4 linked regions of the Homo sapiens genome follow. The protein of the gene in region 3 purifies or fractionates together with the protein of the main gene of each other region. This does not show direct contact. Each region holds a gene or a part of one and is shown on either strand. Other genes may lie near its edges.

Region 1 (7,029 bases), on a different chromosome or scaffold from region 3:
CACCATGCTGCCCTGGGTGGTCTTGAACTCTTGAGCTTAGGCGATCCACCCACCTCGGCCTCCCAAAGTGCTGGGATTACAGGTGTGAGCCACTGCGCCCGGACTTTTTTTTTTTTTTTAATGAGACAGAGTCTCACTCTGTCACCCAGGCTGCGGTGTAATGGCACTATCTCGGCTCACTGCAACCTCTGCCTCCTGAGTTCAAGCAATTCTCCTGCCTCAGCCTCTCGAATAGCTGAAGAGTCTGTCTTAAAAAGAAAAAAAAAGCCAGACGCACTGGCTCACGCCTGTAATCCCAGCACTTTGGGAGGCCAAGGCGGGCGGATCACAAGGTCAGGAGATCGAGACCATCCTGGCTAACACTGTGAAACCTCGTCTCTACTAAAAATACAAAAAATTAGCCAGGCGTGGTGGCGGGCGCCTGCAGTCTCAGCTACTTGGGAGGCTGAGGCAGGAGAATGGCATAAACCCGGGAGGCAGAGCTTGCAGTGAGCCTAGATCACGCCACTGCACTCCAGCCTGGGCGACAGAACAAGACTCCGTCTCAAAAAAAAAAGAAAAAAAATCCATAAATAAAAAGTACAGATAAAAAACATAAAGGGAGGAAATAAACATAATTAATAAATAAGAATACAAATGAATAAGAATAGTGGTTACCTTTAGGTAGGAAGGGAGGTTGTAATGGGAAAGGGCAGTCAGGTAGGCGTCTGTGGGTTGATAATGTTCTGTTTCTTGATCTCGATAGTTTTCAAGCATTTACTTTGTAATAAATCATTAAGATGCACATTTTTGTCTCATACACTTTGCTGCATGTGTAGTAGAACTCATAATAAAAAGTTTACAAGGCTGGGCGCGGTGGCTTATGCCTGTAATCCCAGCACTTTGGGAGGCTGAGGCGGGCGGATCACAAGGTCAGGAGATCGAGACCATACTAGCTAACATGGTGAAACCTCGTCTCTACTAAAAATACAAAATAATTAGCTGGGCGTGGTGGCGCGCACCTGTAGTCCCAGCTACTTGGGAGGCTGAGGCAGAAGAATCGCTTGAACTCTGGAGGCGGAGGTTGCAGTGAGCCAAGATTCTGCCACTGTACTCCAGCTTGGGCGAAAGCAAAACTCTGTCTAAAGAAAAATAAAAGTTTACAGTACTCACTCCTTATCCTCAGTACATATGTTTTAAGACTCCCAGTGGATATCTGAAACCACAAATAGTACCAAACCCTACGTACACCATGTTTTTTCCTCTAAATATATGCCCATGATAGAATTTAATTTATAATTTAGGCACAGTAAGAGACTAATAACAATAACTAATGATAAAATAGAACAGTTATAACAATATGTCAATCTTGCATTTGGGGTCACTATTAAGTAAGATAAAGGTTACCTGAACACAAGCACTATGATACCATGACAGTCGATCTGATAACCGAGTTGGCTACTAAGTGACTAATGGGCGGGTAGCATAGACAGTGTTGGATATGCTGGACAAGGGGATGAGTCATGTACTAGCCTGGATGGAGGGGGATGGTGTAAGATTTCATCAAGCTACTCAGAACGGCATGCAACTTAAAACTTATGAATTGTTTATTTCTGGAATTTTCCATGTAATATTTTCAGACAGAGGCTGACTGTGGTAACTGAAACCATGGAATGCAAAACCATAGATATGGGTGAACCGCTGTCTTTAAATTTATGGAACCAGTGTCACTTAATGAGAGAATGGTATAAATATTTGTTGACTCTCTTTCTTGGATTTAAGTACTTTTCTTAACCATATCTTTACTTACTCTAACAGGCTTACAACATCCTTTTCTTGGAAATTATCTTTTAGCAATTAATCTCTTTACTGTAGCTCTTTAGCTTCCAAGCTCTATTAACACCCTTTCACTGGAATCAATAGCTATAATTACTTTCCGTAGTAAGGGCATCTATTCTTGAATTGTCTATACTTCCTAACATGGGGCATTGTTTGTAGAACCCCAATTTTTTTTTTGAGATGGGGTTTCACTCTGTCACCCAAGGCTTCAGTGCAGTGGCGTGATTGCAGCTCACTACAGTCTCGACCTCCTGGACTCAAGCAATCTTCTCCCCTTGGTCTCCCAAGTAGCTGAGACAACAGGAAGCATCACCACACTCAGATAATTTTTATATTTTTTGCAGAGATGAGGTCTCACCACATTGCCCAGCCGCTAGTCCCAAACTCCTGGGCTCAAGTAATCCTCCCACCTCGGCCTCCCAAAGTGTTGAGATTATAGGCATGAGCCACTGTGCCCAGCCCAAACCCCAAAATTTAATTTTGTGTTGTAACACACAAAGATTAAGCAATAATTTGTATAACTGCAAGGTGTACAATATAAAGACAAAGCAAGTATATAGACTCATTGGGGACGAAATAAGCATCAGCCAGTTTTTCTGGGAATTTCCACATCTGCCTCCTATCATTGATTATTTTAATCTGTTTGTCTTCAGTTTTTGTCTACCCAACCCTAGTTCAAAACCCAGGCATCTGTCTAGAAAAAGCTTTCACAGTAACAGGAAATTTGATTTAGTGATAAGAAATATGAATAATCTTTTATTAAGACCAACCCATTATTTATTTTCTACAACTATACTAAAAGAACAGCTAAGTGAACACAGTTCAAATTATATTTTGATAGTAATTACAAAGCATATAGCTAACTATTGCTCCTATCTACCTTTCTAAATGCCTAAATGTTTCAACGTCCCCTGTAAGGTGAATAATAAGCATCAAAATATAGCAGATTAAAACAATTCTGCACCAAATTATGGTGACCCAGACTCTGGTCTACGAACTGTCATCAATTTGATAAACTTAAATAAAGGTAGTATTTTTATCATAAAATTTCTCACTTTTGGAACATGAGGATTAAATTCCACAGCTCTATGAATTGCTTCCACGGCATTAATTTCTGCTGTGCTTAATCCTCTTCTGGAGGCTGTTTCTGGAGAGAATCTACAAGAAAACCACAAAATGAAAAAATAAATATGCTAAAAAAAAGAAAAAAAGTATGAATTTAGATAATAATACAGCCCCTTGAATCAAAAGAAGTTTCTGGAGATGGCCAAAAACAAAGCCAGAGGACTAACAAAAAAAAAAAAAAAATTAAAGCTGGCCGGGCGCAGTGGCTCATGCTTGTAATCCCAGCACTTTGGGAGGCTGAGATAGGTGGATCACCTGAGCTCAGGAGTTAGAGACCAGCCTGACCAACATGGAGAAACCCCGTCTCTACTACAAATACAAAATTAGCTGGGTGTGGTGGTGTGTGCCTGTAGTCCCAGGCACACATGGGAGGCTGAGGCAGGAGAATCACTTGTACCCGGGAGGCAGAGGTTGCAGTGAGCCAAGATTGTGCCATTGCACTCCAGCCTGGGCAACAAGAGTGAAACTCTGTCTCAAAAAAAAAAAAAAAAAAAAAAAAAGTATAGTCTTGTGGGTTCAACATAGAAAAAACAAAGCAGCATAAGGAATGAAAGTCTTCAAACTTAGGTAAAGAAGGCCTTCAGGAGAAGTCCACTGAAGGTACACTTTAGGAAAGGTAATAAAGTAATAAATGCAACACAGTGATATCCAGAGAATCTCATGAAATAGCAGTACATTCTTATCAAATTCTTATTTGAGAGGACACAAATGGAAAATTCCATTCTAATTCATATCAAAGCATAAAAATCTAAGGTGAAAGAAAATGGCCACTATTTGGTTGGTTTCTGAGTATCTTACCTGCACAATAAAGAGAATTCACTAAGAGTAGCCAAAAATACAAGAAAAGCAGAAGAACTCAGAATTATACTCTAAGAAGAGATAACATAAGCCTATTTCCCTACTACACACTTTATCATCATCATCATAGTTACTATTTGGTGTGTGTACTTTCTTTCTAGATATTGCTTTAGGCACTTACCACACATAATCCTCCTACAACCCTCCTGCAATATTAGTCTCATTTTACAGATGAAGGAGAGACTCAAAATGATTAACTTGCCTACAGTCCTATAGCTAAAATGTGGTAGAGTTTGAATTTGAGCTCAGGTTAGCTCTAAAAACTTTGCTCTTTCCACTACACACAGCAAGAAGCCTAAAAGCCCAAGAAGATCCAGGGCTATTCAGAAGGAAGTAGAGTGGAAAACAGCATTGTTTAAAGTCAGTAGAGGACAAGCATAATACTGAGTTTAGCAGTCTTTCCAAATCATTGTAGTTTTTATAACACGTACTTTTCTGAAACAGTCCTTGTCTTCAACAGTGCTGCTGTGTAACAGATTGCTGCTGACTTTGGAAGGCTTATATCTGTAACGATAATTTTCAATTTAGGTAGGAATTACAAAAAAGGTATTGAGACAATTTTTTAATAAGAATAATTCACGGCCAGGCATGGTGGCTCATGCCTATAATCCCAGCACTTAGGGAGGCTGAGGCGGGTGGATCATGAGGTCAGGAGTTCAAGACCGGCCTGACCAAAATGGAGAAACCCCGTCTCTATTAAAAATACAAAAATTTGCCAGGCATGGTGGCGCATGCCTGTAATCCCAGCTACTCAGGAGGCTGAGGCAGGAGAATCGCTTGAACCTAGGAGGCGGAGGTTGCAGTGAGCCAAGATTGCGCCATTGCGCTCCAGCCTGGGCAACAAGAGTGAAACTCCGTCTCCAAAAAAAACAAAACAAAACAAAACAAAAAAAAGAATAATTCACAATGCAATGCAAATTCAATAGTTATATAGGAAAAACCTGGACGTGATGTTGAAAAATCTATAATATAGTAGGAAAAACCCGTATATGAAGTTGAAAAAGCTGAATCTGAATCTTTATCTTACTATTTACCAGCTAAGCATCTTTGAGCTAGTAGCAACTTGTTTGACCTCAGTTTTCACCTCTCAAAATAATGATATTTTCTGACCGAGATGAAATTATGTCTATGAAAGCCGTCTGCACAACGGTGAAATGCGTTCAACCAATGTCTACAATAACCTGCTTATGGACGGGCGTGGTGGCTCATGCCTGTAATCCCAGCACTTTGGGAGGCTGAGGTGGGTGGATCACGAGGTCAGGAGTTCGAGACCAACCTGGCCAACATAGTGAAACCCTGTCTCTACTAAAAATACAAAAAATTAGCCGGGTGTGATGGCAGGTGCCTGTAATCCCAGCTACTCAGGAGGCTGAGGCAGGAGAATCACTTGAACCTGGAAGGCCGAGGTTGCAGTGAGCCGAGATTGTGCCAGTGCACTCCAACCTGGGTGACAGTACGAGACTCTGTAAAAAAAAAAAAAAAAAAAACAATAAAAAAAAAACCTGCTTATAGTAAGTTCAGGGGAAAAGGCATGGTATAATTAGAACTATGTAAAACCTTCACCTATTCATAGAGAAAAACTAATATTAGAAAAAAATTAAAATATTTAACAGTAGTTAAATCCAGGTTGATTCAACCGAGGGTGATATTTTTCTTCTTCCTAGATTTATTTTTCTTAAATTATTATTTTTTAGAAAATAAAAATTTCATCTGGAACTGTAGGTAAATTAATTATATCAATCATTCTCAAAAGAATATCCAAAATAATGCTATCAGAAGATGTTTCTGATCCCAGAATCATACTAGCAAATGGAGAACTAAGGAAGTAAATTTGCTTTCAACTTCCTCCAGATTCTGGAATGGTAAAAACTGGGACTCATGAAAATAACTGAAAATACAGAAGCATATCAACTTAGATATGCTTTATTAGTTTTAGTTTTATTTTATTTTTAATGAATCAGGTCCTATTCCAGTTTGTTACATTCAGTCCCTAAGCTTGCTCATCATAAGTATTATAAGCAGGCCATGTATCCAGTAAGTTACATATGGAAAGAATTTCTCACAAATTTCTCCATGAGCCTACACTATTCTGAAGCATTGCTTAAGAATTCCAGATGTTTAAAAGAAGTAAACTTCTCTTTCCAAGTATAACACATTTCAAACTTCCCAAGTCATGGGGATTCCCAAGCAAATGGGTAGGAACCTATAACAGGACAAATGTGAATAAACGACCTTTTTCTTTGTTTTTTTTGTGAGATAGGGTCTCACTCTGTCACCCAGGCTGGAATACAGTGGTGCAATCTTGGTTCACTGCAACCTCTACCTCCCAGGCTCAAGAGATCCTCACACCTCAGCTTCCCGAGCAGCTGGGACTACAGGCGCATGCCACCACACCCAGCTAAATTTTTAAAATATTTTTTTTAGAAATGGGTTTTCACCATGTTGCTCAAGCTGGTCTTCAACTTCTGAGCTCAAGCAATCCACCCGCTTCAGCTTCCCAAAGGGTTGGAATTACAGGCATGAGCCACTGTGTCCAGCCTTCAATGTGACTTACATGTGTTCTCGTATAGTGAAAGATACCACCAGAAGCATAGTAACCCCAAATTTTCAGCTTGAGGTTAAAAGCTGATGCCTCTCTCAGGATAAGAAGGGAGGCTTTATGTCTTTAAAATTCTCCAAACTTCATGTGTGGTAAACTGGTATTGTTATAACATAATAATAAAAATAACTGCCAGGTGCGGTGGCTCACGCCTGTAATCCCAGCACTTTGGGAGGCCGAGCCAGGCAGATCATGAGGTCAGGAGATCGAGACCATCCTGGCCAACATGGTGAAACCTCATCTCTACTAAAAAAAATACAAAAAAATTAGCCAGACATGGTGGCAGGCACCTGTAGACCCAGCTACTCGGGAGGCTGAGGCAGGAGAATGGCGTGAACCTGGGAAGCGGAGCTTGCAGTGAGCCGAGATTGCACCACTGCACTCCCGCCCAGGCGACAGAGTGAGACTCTGTCTCCAATAAAAAAATAAAAATAACCAATATATATTGAATTGTTACCATGGAAAGACTAATGAACTAAGAAATCAAACACCTGGATTTGCCTTTTACTGGCTGGGAGACCTTACTCCAATACTTTAACCTTCTTAAATTCCAGTTCCCTTATTCAGTTAATTGGAGACAGTAAAAATACTTGTCCCACAACATCATAAGACTATTATAACGATCATAT
Region 2 (7,029 bases), on a different chromosome or scaffold from region 3:
TTTATGAAGGCAGAAAATGAGACTTGATTATTGATTTGGGAATTGAAAAAGAAGTTTAACACAGCTTTAGGGTTTCAAACTGTGTGATTACAAAAATAAAAAAAAAATGTTGTTTCATCAAAACAAGTCAGAATGGGGAGACAATTTTCCAGGCAGGAAAGAGGGGCTGTTGGGTAGTAAAAAAAAAAGAGATGATATGTGGGTCCAGGTATATATGTATTTTTAATAAATGTTGACTTTCTAATTAATTAAGTTTATTGATATATAATAGTTGTGCATTTTATGAGGTACATGTGATATTTTGATACATGCATAAAATATGTAATGATCAATCAGGGTAATTGAGGTAGCCATTACCCCAAACATTTATAATTTCTTTGTGTTAGGAATATCCCAAATGTTCTTTTCCAGCTATTTTGAAATATACAATGAAGTCTTGTTAAGCATAGTTGCCCTACTGTGCTTTGAAGCACTGGAATTTATTTCTTCTGTGTAACTGTATTTTGGTTACTAATAAACCAGTTTCTCTCCATCTTCCCCTCCTCATCACCCTTCCCAGCCTCTGGTAACATTCTGCCTACTATCTCCATGAGATCAATTATTTTAGCTCACACATTTGAATGAAAACATGATATTTGTTTTTCTGTGGCTTATTTCTCTTAACACTGACTATGTTGTTTTTCTGTGGCTTATTTCATTTAACACTGACTATGTTGCTGCAAATGACAGAATTTCATCTTTTTTATGGATGAATGGTATTCTACTTTGCATATATACCACAAATTTTCTTCATCCATCCATTCAAATATGTTATTTAAAGTATAAAGAGGAAATGTCTAGAAAGCATTTAGATACACAGTATTGGAACTTTGAAGATAAGCTAGTTTTCTGTAGAAAAAATATTTTTTATCTTCCAGCTGAAAAAGGCTAAATAGGGAATGTTTTTTCCAAAAATATAAATACAGAAGAAACAGTAGAATAATTAGTGTTGTACTACTGACGAGTGTTTTGTTTTAGGGCAGAAACAGGAAGCATTTCAAAAACTTATTAGGAAAATAAAACAGCAGGAGTAAATCTGACCCCAAATAAGTGTGAAAAGATTCCTAAAATGCACCTAAGATAGAACTATCAAGTATAATATTGCTTTATTTTGCCATCTGATAATACTGGTTAGAATACAGGAGCATTGGGGAAACAGATGAATAACAATTTAAGCTAGTAGAATTCTTAAGTCACTGTCAAAAATTGTATCTGATGGTGATATTGAATTTATAAAGGACTTCAATTAGAGGAAAACATCTTATTTATGATGCACTTGGATTTTAATTACTCATCCTGGACCCTTCACATAGTATATTATGATAATAAAATAAAGCTGTTCTTTTTTCATGGCATCCACATTTATACATGTCTTTTTTCTTTTAAGTCCATAAGTATAGATAATTTTTATTAAATATCTAATCTACCCATATTAATTCCAGCCTTCTTATACCTTTTTTCAAATAAATATAATTGTGTTAATTATATAGAATTTAAAAAATTATGCTTACCTTATTTGTATTTTATAATAAATTATGTTTCTTAAGCTTAATACAATCATTTCCCATAATTATTTTTGACAGAATGTTCAAAGAAAATGTTGTCACCCTTTTGAGACTAAGAACATGTCATTTTGTCAAATATTTATGTTCTTGATTTCAAATGATGTTTAATCTTTTTACTTATGAATAAAATATGTATGTCACAATGTGGACAGGTAAAGTAGACATATTTTTAGAGAATTTTCTGTCTTTTAGATACTCTTATTTTTTATTAGTTTTAAGCTAAAACATCAACTTGACTGCTATTAAAAAAATAAAAAAGCTTTTCTTACACCATTGCAGTGATCTGTATTTGTGGCATTGAGATAATTAAATTTCAGTGGAACCAGAACAATGATAAATTATCATTTGAAAGATGCCTACCATGACATGTAATATATAAAAACACAGTTTAAGAAATTTGCTTTATTGGACTCATAGGTTTTGTAGTGACAATAATAGGAAAAGGAACTTTTGCTACTGCATCAATGAATGCAGAGAATAATGGATTATACTGTTATCTTTTATGTTTTTCTAAAAATTCACTTTCGGAAGTTTGTTTTAAATGAAGAAGCAACATTAATTTGATGCGAACAATAATAAATCACTAGATGATATGGTATTAAAAAGTGTAATGTGCACTATTAGTTTTCTTCATCAATCCACAATGCTATTGATATTTAAAGTAACTATAAAGCAGTGTGCATAGATGACAAAATCCAGTTAATAGGTCCAAGAACACTAGTCTCAACTTTTATTTGGTCAAAGAAAATAGACTCAGTGTTTTTGATTGCCTTTTCTCATTTTCATTAAGGAGTATATTTTGTGAATTTTTCCCTTCAGTCTTTAAGACAAAAGTGCAAACTTTATTAGCGTTCTCACTTTTTAATTAGTTTTCCTGTTCATTTTATATACTGCCTCTTAAAAATATTATAGAAGTATTAAATACTTCTTTCATTTGGACTTGGAACATGACTTTCTTAGAATGCTGTGTTGCATATATTTATTTTCTTCTCTCCTTTTCAAACCCTTAGTGGCTTCCTACTGCCTTTAAAACACAAATTGAAACTACTTATTCTGAAACTTAAGGTCATTCATTACCTGTTTCCTACCTTTGTTTTTGACTTTACCTACCATGATTTACTAGTTTTCTAAAGTCAAATCATTTCTAAGCACATCAGAAACATCCATCCTCTGTGGTCTCCATTGACAACATTTGGGATCACCTCCTGTTCCTTCCTCCTAAATCTTCTCTGAAGCCTGGAGAGGCAAGTTCAACCCAACCCCACAATAAAGCAGTTCCTAATTCTCTCTGTTGTTCTTTTTCACTTTGTATGATGTTTGGAATTTCTTTTTTTTTCTTCCATTATATCTGCTTCATAAATTTTACTTTAATCTTCTGCCGGACAGGAGTCATGTTTTGTGATTTTGTTTTAATTCTAAGGTGTTAGCACAGTTTCCTACAGGTGCTCAAGAAGCAGTCACTAAAGATACTCAGGCATACCTCAGAGATTTTGCAGGATTGGTTCCAGACTACCACAATAGAGTGAATATTGCAATCAAGCCAGTCACTTGAATTTTTTGGTTTCCCGGTGCATACAAAATTTATGTTTGCATTATACTTTAGTCTACTAAGTGTGCAAAAGCAAAGCATTATGTCTAAAAATTTACTTAATTAAAAAACAGTTTATTGCTAAAAAAAAAATGCTAGCAGTCATCTGAGCCTTCAGGGAGTCATAATCTTTTTTTGCCGGTAGAGAGTCTTGCCTCAATGTTGATGGCTGCTGACAGATTGGGGTAGTGGTTACTGAAGGTTGGAGGGGTGTGGCAATTTCTTAAAATCAGACAACAATGAAGTAGTATGCTGCATTGATTGACTCTTTCTTTCATGCAATATTTATCTGTAGCATGTAATACCCTTTGATAGCATTTTACCCGAAGTGGAACTTCTTTTGAAACTGGAGTCAATCCTTTCAAACCCTGCTGCTACTTTGTCAACTAAGTTTATGTAATAATATAAATTCTTTACAGTCATTTCAACAATGTTCATAGCATCTTCACCAGGAGTAGATTTCATCTCAAGAAACCAATTTATTTGATGATAAATAAGAAGCAACTCCTCATTCATTCAAATTTTGGTCAGAGATTGCAGCAGTTGAGTCACATCTTTGGGCTCCACTTCTAATTCTAGTTATCTTGCTATTTCTACCACAACTGCAGTTACTTCCTCCATTGAAGTCTTGATCCCCTCAAAGTCATCGATAAGGGTTGGAGTCAACTTCTTCCAAACTTCTGTTAATGTTGATATTTCTACCTCATCCCACGAATCATGAACATTGAAATTACTCTTTGATCCATGGGCTGCAGAATAGATGTTGTGTTAGCAAGAATGATACAATACTAATCTCATTGTACATCTCCATCAGAGCTCTTGGGTGACCAGGTGCCTTATCAAGGGGCAGTGATATTTTGAAGTCTTTTTTTTAAGTGTTAAGTCTCAACAATGGGCCTAACATTTTCAGTAAACTATGCTTTAAACAGATTTGCTGCCAGTCAGGCTTTGTTTTTCCATTTCTGGAGCATAGGCAGAGCAGATTTAGCAGAATTCTTAAGTGTCCTAGGATTTCCAGAATGGTAAATGAGTATTGGCTTCAACTGAAAGTCACCGAATGCATTAGCCCCTACCAAGAGAGTCAGCTTGTCACTGAAGCTTTGAAACTAGGCTTTGTCTTCTCCTCTCTAGCTACTTAAGTACTAGATGGCAACTTTTTCCAATAGAAGGCTGTCTTCCAAATTGAAAATCTGTTGTTTAATTTAGCCACCTTCATCAATAATCTTATTAATAGTTTGATTTTTTTGATAACTTGCTGTAGCTTCTGCATTAGCACTATCTACTTCATCTTGCACGTTTATGTTATGGAGGGGACTCATTTCCTTAAGCTTCATGAGCTAACCTCTGCTAGCTTCCTCTTCCATAGCTAACCTCTTCCATAGCTTCTTCACTTCCCTCACCTTTCAGAGAATTGAAAAGAGGTAGAGCATTGCTCTGGATTTGGCTTTGGATTAAGGGAATGTTGTAGCTGGTTTGATCTTTTTTCCAGACCACTCATACTTTTGCCATCTCAGCAATAAGGCTGTTTCCTTTTCTTATCAGTTGTGTATTCACTGGAGTAGCACTTTTAATTTCCTTAGGAACTTTTCCTTTGCATTCACAACTTGGCTAACTGGCACAAAAGACCTAACTTCCAACTTATGTAAGCTTTTGATGTTCCTTCCTCACTAAGCATAATCATTTCTAGCTTTTGATTTAAAGTGAGAGACATGATACTCTTCCTTTCACTTAAACAATTACAAGTCATTTTTGGGTTATTAACTAATCTAACTTTAATGTTTTTGTGTCTTGGGGAATACAGATGGTGGAGGAGAGGGAAAAGAGTCGAGGGAATAGCCAGTTGGTGGAGTGATCAGAACACACATATTTTATTGGTTAAAATTGCCTTCTTATATGGGTGCGGATAGTGGTATCCCAAAACAATTACAATAGGAACATCAAAAATTACTGATCACAGATCACTATAACAGATATAATTACAATGGAAAAAGTTCAAGTTACCAAATCTGACACAGAGACCCTAAGTGAGCACATGCTGGAAAAAATGTCTCCAACGGACTTGCTTGATTCAGGGTTGCCACAAACCTTCCATTTATAAATAATTCAATATTGGCAAAGTGCAATCAAGTCAAAAGCAATAAAAAAGGCATGCCTGTACATCATTTGACAGTCTAAAGTAAGACAACTCTCTGAAAACAAATTCTCACATTAATGAAATGTTTGAGTTTGGCAGATAAACATTTTTCTATTTACTAGCAGAATTAATTAAGAATTATTCTCTATACTTTAGTATTATCACTTACTATACCATAAGCTGAATTTTAGATAAATAATTTTCCTGCTAATTTAAACGTTATGCATTATATTCACTATAACATTTGTTAAACTGTTGATTTTATAGATTCATAAAATATTTAAATTGAAAAGACTATAGAAATTGCTTACATCAATCTCCTAATTTTTTAAGTGATAAAAATAAGACAAAGAACAGTTAAGTAATGGAAGAATGATGGCTAAAATGTAGGTCTCCTTCATAGAAAAATGGCCAAAGTAAGGGATAATAAGTCAACAGCATACTTAATCATAAAACTTTGATGAGACGAAGGTGCTGAAATTGATTATAATTGAAAAATAATGGTGACTGACAGTCAACATGCACAGGGAAAAAGATGAAGAAGAAAAATAATAGTGCTTGATTCATCAGCATTCATCATCATAATCTTCTCAGGTATGAAAATGATAATATTAACCATGCCAAATTGTAAAGGCCAACCAAACAGTGAGTTCTACCACCAATGTTGTATACAGACAGTTTAGATAATCTGAAAACTGAACAAATAAATTAGAAATATGAAGTGTCAGTGTGAATTAATGTTGCCTGTATTTACTATTGCAAAGTTATTTATTTTGTTTTCTTTTATTAGATACTTAATTCGACCAGATCCACTGGCCTACCTTCCAAACAGTGAGCCCAGTCGAAGAAACAGCATCTGCAATGTCACTGGTCAAGATTCTCGGGAGGAAACTCAACTTTGATAAAAATAAAATGAGAAACTTTTTTCCTACAAAGACCTTGCTTGAAACCACAAAAGTTTTGCTGGCACGAAAGAAACTAGATGGAAATATATGTAATTCTCTCATATTTAAAAACGTAATCTCTTCTCTTAGAAGTATAGATCATTTTGAAACTTAATGTACTACTTACTGGTACTCTCCCTATTAATATTTGAAGGACCTCAATGGAATAAATTTGAAAAGCTAAATTAAAATACAAAAATTTAAATCTGACATTTAATTGTTTTATAATAATCCAAACTCTATGAAAGCAATTTTAAAAATTATTAAGGTTTTATGAAGTTGACAAAATCTAACTATATTTGGTGCATCACAATGGACACAGAATGCTGCTGCTCCTCTTAAAAATTAAATGTGTCATATTATATTCTTTAAACTTACTGTTTTACAAAATTGAGCTCATCGTAAATGTCTAGTCTTCTCACATAGAGATTAACCAACAAACTTGTGTGGCTGACTTTTGTGTAAGAATCATAGTTTGCTTTAGAATACAAATCTTTAAGTCATTTTAACTTTTTTTTCTGCCTTACGATATAAAAATATTTATCTTAGAATTTGAGATGTTCATAGCATGTTTTATTACATTGAAGAAACTAAAACATAAATGAAAAGAAACACTAGGTTCCTGCACTTTTTGGTAACTTTATGTCTAGCAAATATTTTATGCCAAGAAAAGCATACTATAAAGCAAATATCTATTATTCTCCTAAACGAATGCCTAGCATAGAGAAAATACTTAATACACATTTGTTGACTTAAATT
Region 3 (7,029 bases):
GCTAAGATGGTGTATATATAGCTTACTTGATCTTTTTCCATGTGTGCAATTCTTAAAGGTTTAAACTTTTTCCGACAAGGCTTTTCTGACTACTAAGGCTTTTCTGACTACTAAGGCTTTTCTGAGCTGAAACCTAGCTCACAATGGTTTTTTCTACTTCTAAGCTTCAATGTCTTTACTGCACAGATGCATCTTTCCTATTTGTGATGCAAGTGTCTTATATTGTTGAATTTTTCAGCAGTACTTTTTCTCTCTCTTCCCCAAACCATTTGATTCATAGAAGATAAGACACAGTGGGATGGAACAGATGACAAAGCTATGACCCATCTGTGCACACTTACCTGATCCTGCAATGGTGGTGAGCTTGCTTCGTTCAAGTGGAGGAGCCCACTTTGCCCAAATAGTAAACTGACCTGTCCATGCCATTCCCTGAAATGAAAATCATTAAGACCTTTGATATTTTGTAGAATTCAGAAATCTGGATCCCACCAAGAATGAGAAAGTATCTGGATACCTGGGCCATGCCCTGGACTGTCCGAACCATGATGACCAAAATCACTCCGAAGTCAGCAGCCAGTGGTGTAAAGAGGGTGAGAAGGGAAGAGATCAGCAAACCAGCACCAAGCATTTTTTTTGCTCCAAATATCCCTGCTAAATATCCACTTGGGATCAGAGTCAGTATTATCCCATAGTTGATGGAGCTAAAGATGATACCCTGAGTTTCTGGGCTCCATTGATACACAGAGGCCTGGGGGAAAAATAGGAAAACTCTTTGTCAAGAAGTCCTATTATGAAAATCTACTTTACAGTCAGAGTTGCTTGAGGTTAGTGAGACCCTAGTATAAAATATTGATTTTTGTTTCTCTCTATATTCTTCCTACCTTCCCAAATAACCAATTATACCCCTAATTTGCTTGTCTTAGTAGAAGGAGAGAAAAACAGAAGAAATGAAGAAAAGAGGTAAAGAAAATGATTATATAGATGAATAATAGGAAGAAGTAAATGGAAGAAAACATTGAGAGATATTTCATCTGTGAAAGCACTTCCTCTATTTTGCTTCTAGTAAAAGTTGAGTAACATCTTGACTCTTATATCAAAGAATTTTTTAAAACACACACACAAAACTTTACTGAACTCTTAACCAAAATCAGTGCCTAATTAAAAAGAAAAGTCAAGTTTGGGAATCATGGTCTGCCCTGGCTGAACTGAGTTCCTAAAACACATATTACAAATGAATAAGATCACATTCTTCTGATATAACTCAATAAATAATTTGAATTATTTTAAAATAACTACCTAAAATTCCTAAATAATTACATAAATTATATTACCTGAATATTTACCTAAAAATAAATAGATTTTAAAATAAATAAATAAAAAATAAAATAGATTTTAAAATAAAATAAAAAATAAATGCAATAAGGCCCCTAAATATCTGGCATCATGCTATAAAGTAGAGAGCCAAAGAATATAAAATATGAAATATTTTACCCACTCAAAAAAACTATAAATAATACAAGGTATATGATTCATGTGAGAATCAAGATTTGAGGATGAACATAAATAAAACAGAGACTTTGAGAGGAGAAAATAATAATTTGGGAAGGTCCCAGAAAGGAAGCAATACTTGAACTATCCCTTGAAAAATGACTATGATTTGTAGAAAGTCAAAAAGGAAAATTTTATCTCATCGGAAAAAATAGCAAAAGTGAACTTGTAGCATTTGGAAGAAACTAACAGGGACTCTGGCTTGCTCAGGGCAAAAACTTTCCATGGGTCATTGATAGCAGATGTGAGTGTGCTGAGAAGCAGGCCCAAATTCTGAAGGAACACAGCATGTCCAGTGAACACTGCATGTTTGGCAACTTGAAGGTGTCCAAGATTCCTGAGTAGTGAATCTACTCAGTGTGGATATGTAGACGGGATAATGGAGGAAAGACTGGAGACAATAAATTTATGTACTCATTGTAAATAAGCTAGGTCCAATGTAATAAAATCATTAATCATGAATTATAGGGATGACATGGGAAATGTACAGTACAAGATAATTTAAAGGATAATTTTTTTAATTGGGTAAATTCATGGTTTTCATATAAATGTAAAATAAACATACAACAAAGATTTTATTTAACTCATTGATTAATGGAGGAAGTAAGTAAGATGTTATAACTGGTTCAAAGGAAAACTCAAAGAATCACGCATAACACAAGCAGGAAGCAATGCTGAAATAGACTTTAAATATACAGCAGAGCCTGGCACAGTGGCTCACACCTGTAATCCCAACACTTTGGGAGGCCGAGGCGGGTGGATCACCTGAGGTCAGGAGTTCGAGACCAGCCTAGTGAAACCCTGTCTCTACTAAAAATACAAAAATTAGCCAGCCGCGGTGGCATGCCCCCTTACTCCCAGCTACTTGGGAGGCCGAGACAGGAAAATCTCTTGAACCCGGGAGGCGGAGGCTGCAGTGAGCTGAGATCATGCCACTGCACTCCAGCCTGAATGACAGAGGAAGACTCTATCTCAAAAAACAAACAAACAAACAAACAGCAAAATTGGCTAATTCAACTGGGAGGTGAGTGGAGAAAAGTTTTAACTGATTTTTCTCTTGGCAAAATTTATTTGCAAAGCTATGGACAAGAATCGTTTGCATTTCTATTGGTTATATAGAATTTACAGGGATATAAAATTGCTCAGAAACAATAAAACAGGCAGAGAACTGAATAGGATTGAGTAACCTATAAGAATGTGCCCAGGTAATACCTAGTTTTTCATTGAAGACATCACATAAACTGTTCCATTTTTAAATTTTTCACATTTAACTCTACAGTTCCCCCACCTTATAATCATAATAACCTCAATGAAATCTTATTTTTATTATTGAAGTAAGCAATGTCTCAAAGAAAAATAGTTCCAGTCAGTTTTAATTTGTCATTGGAAATGTATACTTCCATACTCCACAGAATCAAGATCTATGCCTTCCTTTCAAAGTTTTTTCTCTCAACAAAGAGCCCTATTTTCCATCATACTTACCTTTGTATCAAATTCCTTGATGGATATGCTGGAGTTATTGAAGGCATCTGCAACAGGCCCCTCAGTGGAGGCATTAGATAGACCTTGCTGCTGAGTGGTGTTCACCATGGCGATGATCGCAATGCTCAGACTCACACGCTGCGTTATCATGGTGAAGTTTGAGAAGTGCATGATAAGAGCCAGCCCATAGCGTAATGAACAGAAATCTGGACCTAGACAACAACACAGATGTATGTAGTGAGCATCCTGACTGAGACCCCTTTCTTTTCCTTTCTCTCACAGCTCGATCTGATAGAACTTTGGATGACACATGAAGTCTCATTGTCTTTTTTTCACCAAAATAGCCAGCACTACAAACCCACTTTGTCAAATTATTTGGTTGGCTTCAAGACAGCGAATATGGGATCTTATAACCAAGTAAAGCAAATATGGCCATCTTTCAAGGGGATAGGAAACACATGATAAATAGAGAAAACCCACATGTAAGGCATTTATGTCATATTGCTCCAAAATGAAGTGAATGGGGATGACAGTGGCAGAGCCAGTCACATAACCTTCTCAGCGTCAATAAAATTCCCTGGGCTGTAAGTGAATAGTCCCATCTGTTATGCACATTTGTTTATCACAAAGCTTGAGAGTTTATACATAACGAGCTGCCTTTGAATTAAGGTATTGCACATCCAAGGATTCTCTTTTAATACATTTGAGAGATGGTACTTTAAATGAGCACTTCGACTAATTCCCTAGTGTAATGTCTACTTGGAAATGTTATTGCTATGTGTCACTAGGTCCTGCCTTCACATATGTTCAACTTAAAAAAAAAAAAAAACTACGTGGGGTGCAGTGGCTCACGCCTGTAGTCCCAGCATTTTGGGAGGCTAAGGCAGGTGGATCACTTGAGGTCAGGAGTTTGAGACCAGCCTGGTCAACATGGTGAAACCCCATCTCTACTAAAAATACAAAAATTACCCAGGCATGGTGATGCATGCCTGTAATCCCAGCTACTCGGGAGGCTGAGTCAGGAGAATCACTTGAACCCAGGAGGCAGAGGTTGCAATGAGCCAAGATCATGTCACTGTACTCCAGCCTGGGTGACAGAATGAGACTCAATCTCAAAAAAAAAAAAAAAATTAATATGTAGAACTATTTTTACAAAGCTTGCAGGTGATGTGGTGCTGGAAGATATTCAATATATTGAAAGGACAAATTTTTTCTTTAAAAGCATCCCCATAAAATGGAACAACCACAGACCAATATTGAAAGGGTTCCCATGTGCATGATAGATTGGATTTTTCCTGCTTATTTGAAGAAAAGCACTAAAGTGAAAGAAAGAGAAAACCTGTGAAGACACAGATAAAAATATAATGGAAGAAATAATTTTTAATGGCCAAAAAAGCTCACAGATAAGAGTGGTGGTCTGGGAAATAATTATTTCCATTTTACTGGAGGTTTCCAAGCTCAGGAGAAAGAGCCAGCCGCTTGGTGAGAATATTATAGTAGGGATTCATACATAGGTTGGTTTAAAATGACTTTCCCGGGCCAGGCGTGGTGGCCCATGCCTGTAATCCCAGCACTTTGGGAGGCCGAGGCCGGTGGATCACGAGGTCAGGAGATCGAGACCATCCTGGCTAACACGGCGAAACTCCATCTCTACTAAAAATACAAAAATTCATCTGGGCATGGTGGTGTGTGCCTGTAGTCCAAGCTACTCGGGAGGCTGAGGCAGGAGAATCACTTGAACCCGGGAGGCAGAGGTTGCAGTGAGCCGAGATCGCACCACTGCACTCCAGCCTGTGAGACAGAGCAAGACTCAGTCAAAAAAAAAAAAAAAAAAGACTTTCCCAAAACTTATTCCACTCCCTAGATCCCAGGATTTATTGCTTATTTGGCTTAATTTCTCACAGATGATTTCATGGGGCTAAGGAAAAAGCAACAGGATCAGGGGCTGGAGCTGGCTCCAATGTTACACTGGGAGTATCTTTACGAAGGGTCAGTGTGATGCAGAGATGTGTAAATGTGTCGGAATAAGCTTCAGCTTATTAACATAGCCTGCAAACAAGAGCAGTGGCTTTACCTTTCCTGGTGGCAGGCTTCCCGTCCATTTAGCTTCTGTGGGAAATGGTACCACGCTTTGTGGTGGAGTTTCCCTGTGCCCTGAATCTCTTTTACTACGACAGTCTTTTATCTATGGAGAGAACATAATCCAAAACATAATACACAAATAATTTCCCCTTGTTAATGTTGCCTCCTCTTAGCATCAGTAAAAGTTTTGACCCAACACAGCTCTATAACTTACATTTTATGGGGCACTACTGGTATGCTTTTGGTTACAGGATTGTTAAAAGGAAATCTGGCTGTAAGTTCCAGCTGTGTGACCTAGAGCTAGTCATTTAAATTCTCTAATCATTCATTTCCTCATCTGTTCAATAAAGATAAGGCTCCTTTCTTAGTGCAGCTGGAAGAATTAAATGAAAAATTGCATGTACTTTATCAAACCACAGAGAAGCATGCGAAGGTGAAGAGTGGTATTGCTTGTAGCAGACCATAAGACAGGACAATTAAACTAAGCTCAAGAGCTAAGGAGGAAGGTTCCAGAGCGGTCTTTCCTTTCATTCTGATGGTGTTTCTCTCCCCTCTGTACCACCAGAACAATGTTCCATGTGCCTTCGAACATGAAGGATGACATTACATAACACTAATATGTATTACATTTAAAAGTTTAAAATGTTTATTCTCATGTTTGCTACACACAATGTGGACACTTGCTTGGACTGACAAAGTCTTCATATCACCTAGAAAATTATAATGAACAGGGACTAATTACTACAATTGTGAATAAATCCAGCTATTGTGACAGGCAAAGAGAATTCATGGCTCTAAATATGGACATGTTTAATTTAATATTTGTATACTAATCAAATTATCTTTGGGGATGCATACATTTGTTTCTTTTAGGAAAAATCCATATCCTAAGAATATCATCAATTTTCCATTCATTCCTAAATTGAAGCTTCTATGACTTTATTTTTTAAATTGCTTAAAATCCTTCAAGACATCTGAAATTTCTGTGACTTTAAAAACACATGTATCGGCCGGGTGCAGTGGCTCACACCTGTAATCCCAGCACTTTGGGAGACTGAGGTGGGTGGATCACTTGAGGTCAGGTGTTCGAGATCATCCTGGCCAACATGGTGAAACCCCATCTCTACTAAAAATACAAAAACAGCCGGGTGTGGTGGCACATGCCTGTAGACCCTGCTACTAAGGAGGCTGAGGCAGGATAATTGCTTGAACCCAAGAGGCAAAGGTTGCAGTGAGCCAAGATCGTGCCACTGCACTACAGCTTGGGGGACAGAGCAGGAATCCGTCTCAAAACAAACAAACAAAAAAACACATATATCAAACCTCTATTTTATCATTCAAGGCTTTGCACTGTTTTTGCACACAAAATTTAAAAGACTTGTCCGTACTTTAAAGATATTCATAATCTGTGACCTTAGGATGAAGGATTATAAAGAAAGGCATAGATGAAAAATTGTGTCCAAAAATATCCTTTGTAGTATTACTCATGACTGCATAATGTTAGAGATAAATTAACCTAATAATGAGAGTCTGGCAAGTCAATTTGATAGATTATTGTGATGGAAGCTATTTTAAAATGTTTTCGACAATATTGAATTACATTAGAAAAATGCTAGTACTCTAGTGTACAAAGCAGGATACGCTGTGCACATCCACATACAGGAATAGAAACTGATTCACACAAGTGCCAGTAATGACTATTTCTGGGTTACAAAACAGGATGATCACTTCATTCTTTGTGACTTTCTATATTTACCAAGTGATTTTGTAAATAATTAGTAGATACTCATTTTATATTCAGAAGTAGCTAAATGTATTTAAAAGAGCAATAATTGGACTTCATCAGCATGGCAAGTATAGTTTTCTGCTTTCCAAATATCTCTAGAATTCTGGGAATAGTATCTCTCCATCTAAATT
Region 4 (7,029 bases), on a different chromosome or scaffold from region 3:
AGGTCTTTAACAGTGAAGTAGCCTACCAGCAGGCCGATTTCAAGTTAGGCTGAGATTGTAGTTAATATTGGGAACATATCCCGTGCAAAATAAAACAACATCTAAATTATCCCAAACACATAAAAGTACCTCCTCTAATTCAACCAGAGCCACAGATTCAGAAAGAAAACACCGGTCCCTCTGGGGAGGTGTCTAGTTTATTTAAATTCACAGGGAATTCAACTCCCAGCACCACTTGCTGGGACAGTATCACCTTATTGACTTTTATCAAAGCTTCTGGAAATTAGAAACACAACTTGGTTTTGAGATCTTCCCAGAAAACTTGGATGTGACCAATCATTTGAAAGGAAAGGTCTTATTTTATGAGGAAGGAGTCAGACATATCAGAGAAATAAAAAAAAATCTCTCTTTAAAAGGAGCCAATAATTTAAATGAACACCTAGAGCTGCTCCTGGGCAGCTCCTGTAAGAAAGAGCTTTATACCACCATCTGCCAAATCTGTATTCGTCTGGCTGTAATTTACAGCAATGGAATATCTAGATAGTGACTTTCCTAAGCAATATAGCAAGGAGAAAAGCAGTGTTTGTAGTTTTAAATCTATAAAACACATAGTGTTCAAGACTATTCCTTTATTAGCATAGAAATTTCAGACCTGCTTCTCCTGGCATTATTTTCTAAATTCCACCTCCCAGTAGAGGCGTGGCAGCTAAAGCTTCACATTCATTTTCCTGATGGAGCATTTCTGCATATTAAACAGCAGCTTACAAACAGTCAATGAGTCCTCTGCTCCCACGCCTGATCAGCACAAAAAACTGAAAGGAGAGATTCGAGACTGGCAGTTGTCCTCACTAGAGACATTCAATGATGTGTTTTCTGTCTATTCATTCACAGTATTGACATGAGCCATTAACATCTGCAGAACTTGTTTTAGCTGGCAAAAGTTGGGTATCTGGGAATTGATTTAAAAGGTCATTACCAAGACAGTTGAATCATATTCAAAATACATTTCCACAAACTCTTGAGAAAAATAAAAATGAGATTTCCAGTAAAGTTTAGAACTCACTTCCTTTTCACTGTGTAAAGAATTTGATCAGTGTCAAATATCTCATGAACAGGTTTTAAAATCAAAGGCAAGTGAAGTTTAGGGTTAATCAACCACAAATCACATAATTCTGGGTTTGAAACAGGACAGGGCATGAAGATTGTTTTCATTTGATTTTAATGTTTTTATTTTCTCATTAGTACATAAATTTTGTCTACTTTATTGCTGTCAATTTAGATTTAAAAAGCGACAAGTTGGACATTCTTATTTTATAAAATTAACTTTTTATAAGCAGATTTATTGCTGGCAGTGGCTTTAAATTCCTGGTATCTTGATAAATCTATGTAAATAAACTGTATAAATTGTTATTTGCTTGAATGTCAGTGTTCTGGAATGAGAAGAACATATAAATAGAAAAGCTAGATATATAGAAGGGATTGAGAATAGAAAAATAATTACTTTAGAAAAGAACTACACATTTATATAAACAACAAAGAATATTTTTTTGAATCTTATAAACTATTTTAGAAGTGCATTTTGCTTCAAAACACACACTATTCCAGACCAAATCTAGCAGTAATGAACGAGTAAGTTCATTTACGTATCTTGTTTATATTTCCACATATTAGGTTATTTTTTTAATTTTTATTTATTTATTTTTTTGAGACAGAGTCTCGCTCTGTCACCCAGGCTGGAGTGCAATGGCGCGTGGTCTCTGCTCACTGCAAGCTCCACCTCCCGGGTTCACGCCATTCTCCTGCCTCAGCCTCCCAAGTAGCTGGGACTACAGGCGCCTGCCACCACGCCTGGCTAATTTTTTGTATTTTTAGTAGAGACAGAGTTTCACCATGTTAGCCAGGATGGTCTCGATCTCCTGTCCTCGTGATCCACCCCCCTCGGCCTCCCAAAGTGCTAGGATTACAGGCGTGAGCCACTGCGCCTGGCCTGTATTAGGTTATTTTATCTAATAGGTTGTAACCTTTTTAGTGACCATTACACCAAACTGCCTGTACACTTCAAAACTAAGTTTCAATTTTACTAGCCTGACTCATAATAAGAACTATGCTCAGTCAACATTTAACAAGGAGATAAGCATTCTGACAGAGGCACAAAGAACAGGTGAAGCAAATATACACCAGCCCCCAACGAAAGTGTCAACGTACTGACTTTGTTTATACTGTTACTTCTCAGAGTAAAGGATAGAATATGATTTCCATATAGCAAATGGATGGATCTTTTTTTTTTTTTTTTTTTTTTTTCTGAGATGGAGTCTTGCTTTGTTGCCCAGGCTGGAGTGCAGTGGCACAGTCTTGGCTCACTGCAACCTCTGCCTCCCTGGTTCAAATGAGTCTCCTGCCTCAGCCTCCTAAGTAGCTGGGATTACAGGCAACTGCCACCATGCCCAGCTAATTTTTTGTATTTTTAGTAGGGACGGGGTTTCACCATGTTGGCCAGGTTGGTCTCGAACTCCCGACCTTGTGATCTGCCCGCCTCAGCCTCCCAAAGTGCTGGGATTACAGGCGTGAGCCAACGCACCCAGCCTGGCTGTATCTTTTTTGACAGACGTGTAGAAACAGTCAACAGATTAAATGGTAAAGTGGCAGAAACAAACATCTATCTGTAAGGGAACCCTCAGCAGATTTATGAGACCATGGTGGGTCCTTGACAGGAGTGGGAGAATGAGGTTTTCTTAACAATGGGAAGGCCATTGTCATGATCTGCAGAGCTCCAACAGGGACATGAAACTGATAACACCTAGAATTACTACACATATAGCTTCTGACAATAAGAAGGCAACTTTTTAAAAAAAGGCAAATAACATATTTATCATGCCTTGATTAACCATTCAGTTCACTTATTTATCTACCACTGCTGTGCTGCCCAGCATGGTAGAGACTGGCCACACGTGCTCTTGAACACTTAAATGTGATTAGTCCAAATTGAGACGTGGTATAAATGTAAAATATACTCCAGATTTTGAAAACTTAGGATGAAGGATGTAAAATGTCTCATTAATAATTTTTGACAGTGATTACAGGTGACAATGATAATCTTTTGAATACATTGAGCTAGATAAAATATACTGAGATCAATTTTTTCTTTCTTTTTTTTTTTTTTGCTTTTTGCTAATGTGGCTTGCATTGTATTTCTGTTGGCAAGTGATATGGTTTGGCTGTGTCCCCAGCCAAATCTCATCTTGAATTCCCATGTGTTGTGGGAGGGACTGGTGGGAGGTAATTGAGTCATGGGGCCAAGTCTTTCCAATGCTGTTCTTGTGATAGTGAATAAGTCTCAAGAGATTTGATGGTTTTGAAAAGGGGAGTTCCCCTGCACAAGTTCTCTTGCTTTGCCTGCTGCCACCCATGTAAGACGTGACTTGTTCCTCCTTGCCTTCCATCATGATTGTGAGGCATCCCCAGCCATGTGGAACTGTAAGTCCATTAAACCTCTTTCTTTTGTAAATTGCCCAGTTTTGGGTATGTCTTCATCAGCAGCGTGAGAACAGACTAATACAATAAATTGGTACCAGTAGAGTGGGGTGCTGCTGAAAAGATACCCAAAAACATGGAGGTGACTTTGGAACTGGGTAACAGGCAGAGGTTGGAAGAGTTTGGAGAGCTCATAAAAAGACAAGAAAACGTGCGAAAGTTTGGAACTCCCTAGAGACTTGTTGAATGGCTTTGACCAAAATGCTGATAATGCTATGGACAATAAGATCCAGGCTGAGGTGGTTTCAGATGGAGATGAAGAACTTGCTGGTAACTGGAGCAAAGGCGACTCTTGGTATGTTTTAGCAAAGAGACTGGCAGCATTTTGCCCCTTCCCTAGAGATCTGTGGAACTTTGAACTTGAGAGAGATGATTTAGAGTATCTGGTGGAAGAAGTTTCTAAGCAGCAAAGCATTCAAGAGGTGACTTGGGTGCTGTTAAAGGCATTCAGTTTTGTAAGGGAAGCAGAGCATAAAAGTTCAAAAAATTTGCAGCCTGACAATGCAATAGAAAAGAAAAATCTCATTTTCTGAGGAGAAATGGAAGCAGGCTGCAGAAATTCGCCTAAGTAATGAGAAGCCAAATGTTAATCCTCAAGACAACGGGGAAAATGTCTCCAGGGTATGTCAGAGTTTTCATGGCAGCCCCTTCCATCACAGGCCCAGAGGCCTACAAGGAAAAAGTGGTTTTCTGGGCCAGGCCCAGGGTACACTCGTGCTGTGTGCAGCCAAGAGACTTGGTGCTCTGCATCCCAGTTGCTCCAGACATGGCTGAAAGGGGCCAACATAGAGTTCGGGCAGTGGCTTCACAGGGTGCAAGCCCCAAGCCTTGGCAGCTTCCATGTGGTGTTGAGCCTGAGAGTGCACAAAAGTCAAGAACTGGGGTTTGGGAACCTCTGCCTAGATTTCTGAAGATGTATGGAAATGCCTGGATGCCCAGGCATAAGTTTGCTGCAGGGGCAGGGCTCTCATGGCGAACCACTGTTAGGGCAGTGGAGAAGGAAAATGTGAGGTCAGAGCCCCCACACAGAGTTCCCCCTGGGGCACCACCTAGTGGAGCTGTGAGAAGAGGGCCACTGTCCTCCAGACCTCAGAATGGTAGATCCACTGACTGCATTGTGCACCTGATGCCAGCCTGTGAAGGCAGCTGGGAGGGAGGCTGTATCCTGTAAAGCCACGGGGCAGAGCGGCCCAAGACCATGGGACCCTACCTCTTGCATGCTTGACCTGGATGTGAGACGTGGAGTCAAAGGAGATCATTTTGGAGCTTTAAGGTTTTACTGCCCTGCTGGATTTCGGACTTGCCTGGGGCCTGTGGTCCCTTTATTTTGGCCAGTTTCTCTCACTTGGAGTAGCTGTATTTACCCATTGCTTGTACATCCATTGGATCTAGGAAGTAACTAACTTGCTTTTGATTTTACAGGCTCATAGGCGGAAGGGACTTGCCTTGTCTCAGATGAGACTTTGGACTGTGGACTTCTGAACTAATGCTGAAATGAGTTAAGACTTTAGGGTATTGTTGGGAAGGAATGATTGGTTTGGAAATGTGAAGACATGAGATTTGGAAGGGGCCAGGGGCAGAATGATATGGTTTGGCTCAAATCTCATCTTGAATTCCCATGTGTTGTGGGAGGGACCCAGTGGGAGGTAATTGAATCATGGGGGCAAGTCTTTCCTGTGATGTTCTCGTGATAGTGAATAACCATCTTGAGGTCTGATGGTTTTATAAAGAGGAGTTCCCCTGCACAAGCTCTCTTTGCCCACTGCCATCCATGTAAGATGCGACTCGCTCCTCCTTGCCTTCCTCCATGATTGTGAGGCCTCCCCAGCCATGTGGAACTGTAAGTCCATTAAACCTCTTCCTTTTGTAAATTGCCCAGCCTTGGGTATGTCTTTATCCACAGTGTGAGAACAGTAATACAGCAAGTTCCTGGAGGACAGGAACCATGCTTGATTTACTTTGTAGTTGTTGGACTAAGCCTGGTGTCTGGGCTCAGTAGGTGCTACAAAATTGTTTACAGAACAAAATGCATCCTTTTAAAAGTGGTATTCCTGACTCAGGTTTTCATTTTTAAAATGATGTTATGTTTGACACATAAAACGGATTATAGAAATCCCTTGCTATCCAGACAGAAACTAAATATTCTGATAATTTTTAGACAAATTTTTCATCATCTGAACTCTTGCTACTCACCAAACACGGAAACAAAAACAGATCTGGATAGAGAGGGATGCTTGTATGTAACAAAGATCTAAGTTTTGAAACATAATAGGAACAACAAGGCAACAATACCAGCAAAGCTACCTGCATATTCTTCCTGATTGCACTTCTTTGTCTCCTCCCAGAATTAGAGGTGCTAGCTTCAGTTGATGTTTCTCATTCCCTCACCTTTTTTAAAAAATAGCTTTTCTACATGTGTGTTATCCCTCCATGGTGTATTGCTTTCTTTTGCATGTTTTTGAGCTTTATTAAAAATGCAGTCAAGTTTATAGACTTTTATACATTATTAATAATGTATTTTTTACATTAAATACATTATTATCTCATTAGCATCTCTAATTCAACACTTCTTATCAAAGCAACATAACATTTTTAGCTAGAATTTAAACATAATTCTCCATGGCTGACAAACTTTTTTTTTTTTTTTTTTGGGGTGGAGTCTCACTCTGTTGCCCAGGCTGGAGGACAGTGGCACAATCTCAGCTCACCACAACCTCTGCCTCCTGGGTTCAAGTGATTCTCCTGCCTTAGCCTCCTAGTAGCTGGAATTACAGGTGCCTGCTACCACGCCTGGCTAATTTTTGTATTTTTAGTAGAGACGAGGTTTCACCATGTTGGCTAAGCTGGTCTCGAACTCCCGACCTCAAGTGATCCGCCTATCTCGGCCTCCCAGAGTGCTGGGATTACAGGCCACCTTTTTGTTTTAATACATTTAGAATTTATAAAGAGTTGGCAAATAAAATATTAATTAAAACCATGAGAAAACGTCTCCATAAAGAAAATTTCTTTAAATATGTATGCAAATGACAAGGATTTAAAATTTAACCTGCTATTACCTCGATAATATAGAGCACTATATTCTTGTAGAAGCAGTATAAGATGCACTTGGAGACTCTGTTATAGTTCCAGGCACCATGAATCATCAGTAAATTCTTCAAATATTTGAACTAAAACAAGAGTGGGAAAAAATTAGTATTTTCCTTTTCAAAGCATCAGTTGACTGAGAGGAATGATGTGTTTTGCAGAAATGACGCTTTACCTGAGCTATGGAGTAGTCAGAGGAATTAGCTGCCTGCAGGCCTTCATTGCCACTGATACCAACACCAACGTGCGCTGTCTGTATCATGCTGACATCATTTGCTCCATCACCGATTGCAAGCGTTACGACTTTGACTTGTTTCTTAACCATCTCAACAACTTCAGATTTTTGAAGAGGAGAAACCCTGAAATTGAAACACATTATCAATTACTGTTTTCTGAAAAAAGGAATTTTGAAAT

Evidence for each region.
Region 1: the proteins of SLC17A2 (region 3) and ST7L purify together in Homo sapiens (affinity purification with mass spectrometry; 2 studies listed by BioGRID and IntAct, with this or other methods). This does not show direct contact.
Region 2: the proteins of SLC17A2 (region 3) and KCNT2 purify together in Homo sapiens (affinity purification with mass spectrometry; 2 studies listed by BioGRID and IntAct, with this or other methods). This does not show direct contact.
Region 4: the proteins of SLC17A2 (region 3) and ATP8A1 purify together in Homo sapiens (affinity purification with mass spectrometry; 2 studies listed by BioGRID and IntAct, with this or other methods). This does not show direct contact.

What each region holds. Positions count from the first base shown.
Region 1 is NC_000001.11:112,574,113-112,581,141, forward strand, and holds part of ST7L (suppressor of tumorigenicity 7 protein-like), read right to left. Parts: intron 5,265-7,029; exon of another isoform or gene 5,195-5,264; intron 4,306-5,194; coding exon 4,233-4,305; intron 2,977-4,232; coding exon 2,874-2,976; intron 1,122-2,873; coding exon of another isoform or gene 1,014-1,121; exon of another isoform or gene 1,002-1,013; intron 1-1,001.
Region 2 is NC_000001.11:196,227,423-196,234,451, reverse strand, and holds part of KCNT2 (potassium channel subfamily T member 2), read left to right. Parts: intron 1-6,116; coding exon 6,117-6,228; 3' UTR 6,229-7,029. UniProt on the Homo sapiens protein: Sodium-activated and chloride-activated potassium channel. Produces rapidly activating outward rectifier K(+) currents. Contributes to regulate neuronal excitability.
Region 3 is NC_000006.12:25,920,665-25,927,693, forward strand, and holds part of SLC17A2 (sodium-dependent phosphate transport protein 3), read right to left. Parts: intron 5,216-7,029; 5' UTR 5,133-5,215; coding exon 5,105-5,132; intron 3,243-5,104; coding exon 3,031-3,242; intron 749-3,030; coding exon 515-748; intron 430-514; coding exon 342-429; intron 1-341. UniProt on the Homo sapiens protein: Acts as a membrane potential-dependent organic anion transporter, the transport requires a low concentration of chloride ions. Mediates chloride-dependent transport of urate. Can actively transport inorganic phosphate into cells via Na(+) cotransport.
Region 4 is NC_000004.12:42,458,103-42,465,131, forward strand, and holds part of ATP8A1 (phospholipid-transporting ATPase IA), read right to left. Parts: intron 6,975-7,029; coding exon 6,791-6,974; intron 6,699-6,790; coding exon 6,588-6,698; intron 1-6,587. UniProt on the Homo sapiens protein: Catalytic component of a P4-ATPase flippase complex which catalyzes the hydrolysis of ATP coupled to the transport of aminophospholipids from the outer to the inner leaflet of various membranes and ensures the maintenance of asymmetric distribution of phospholipids.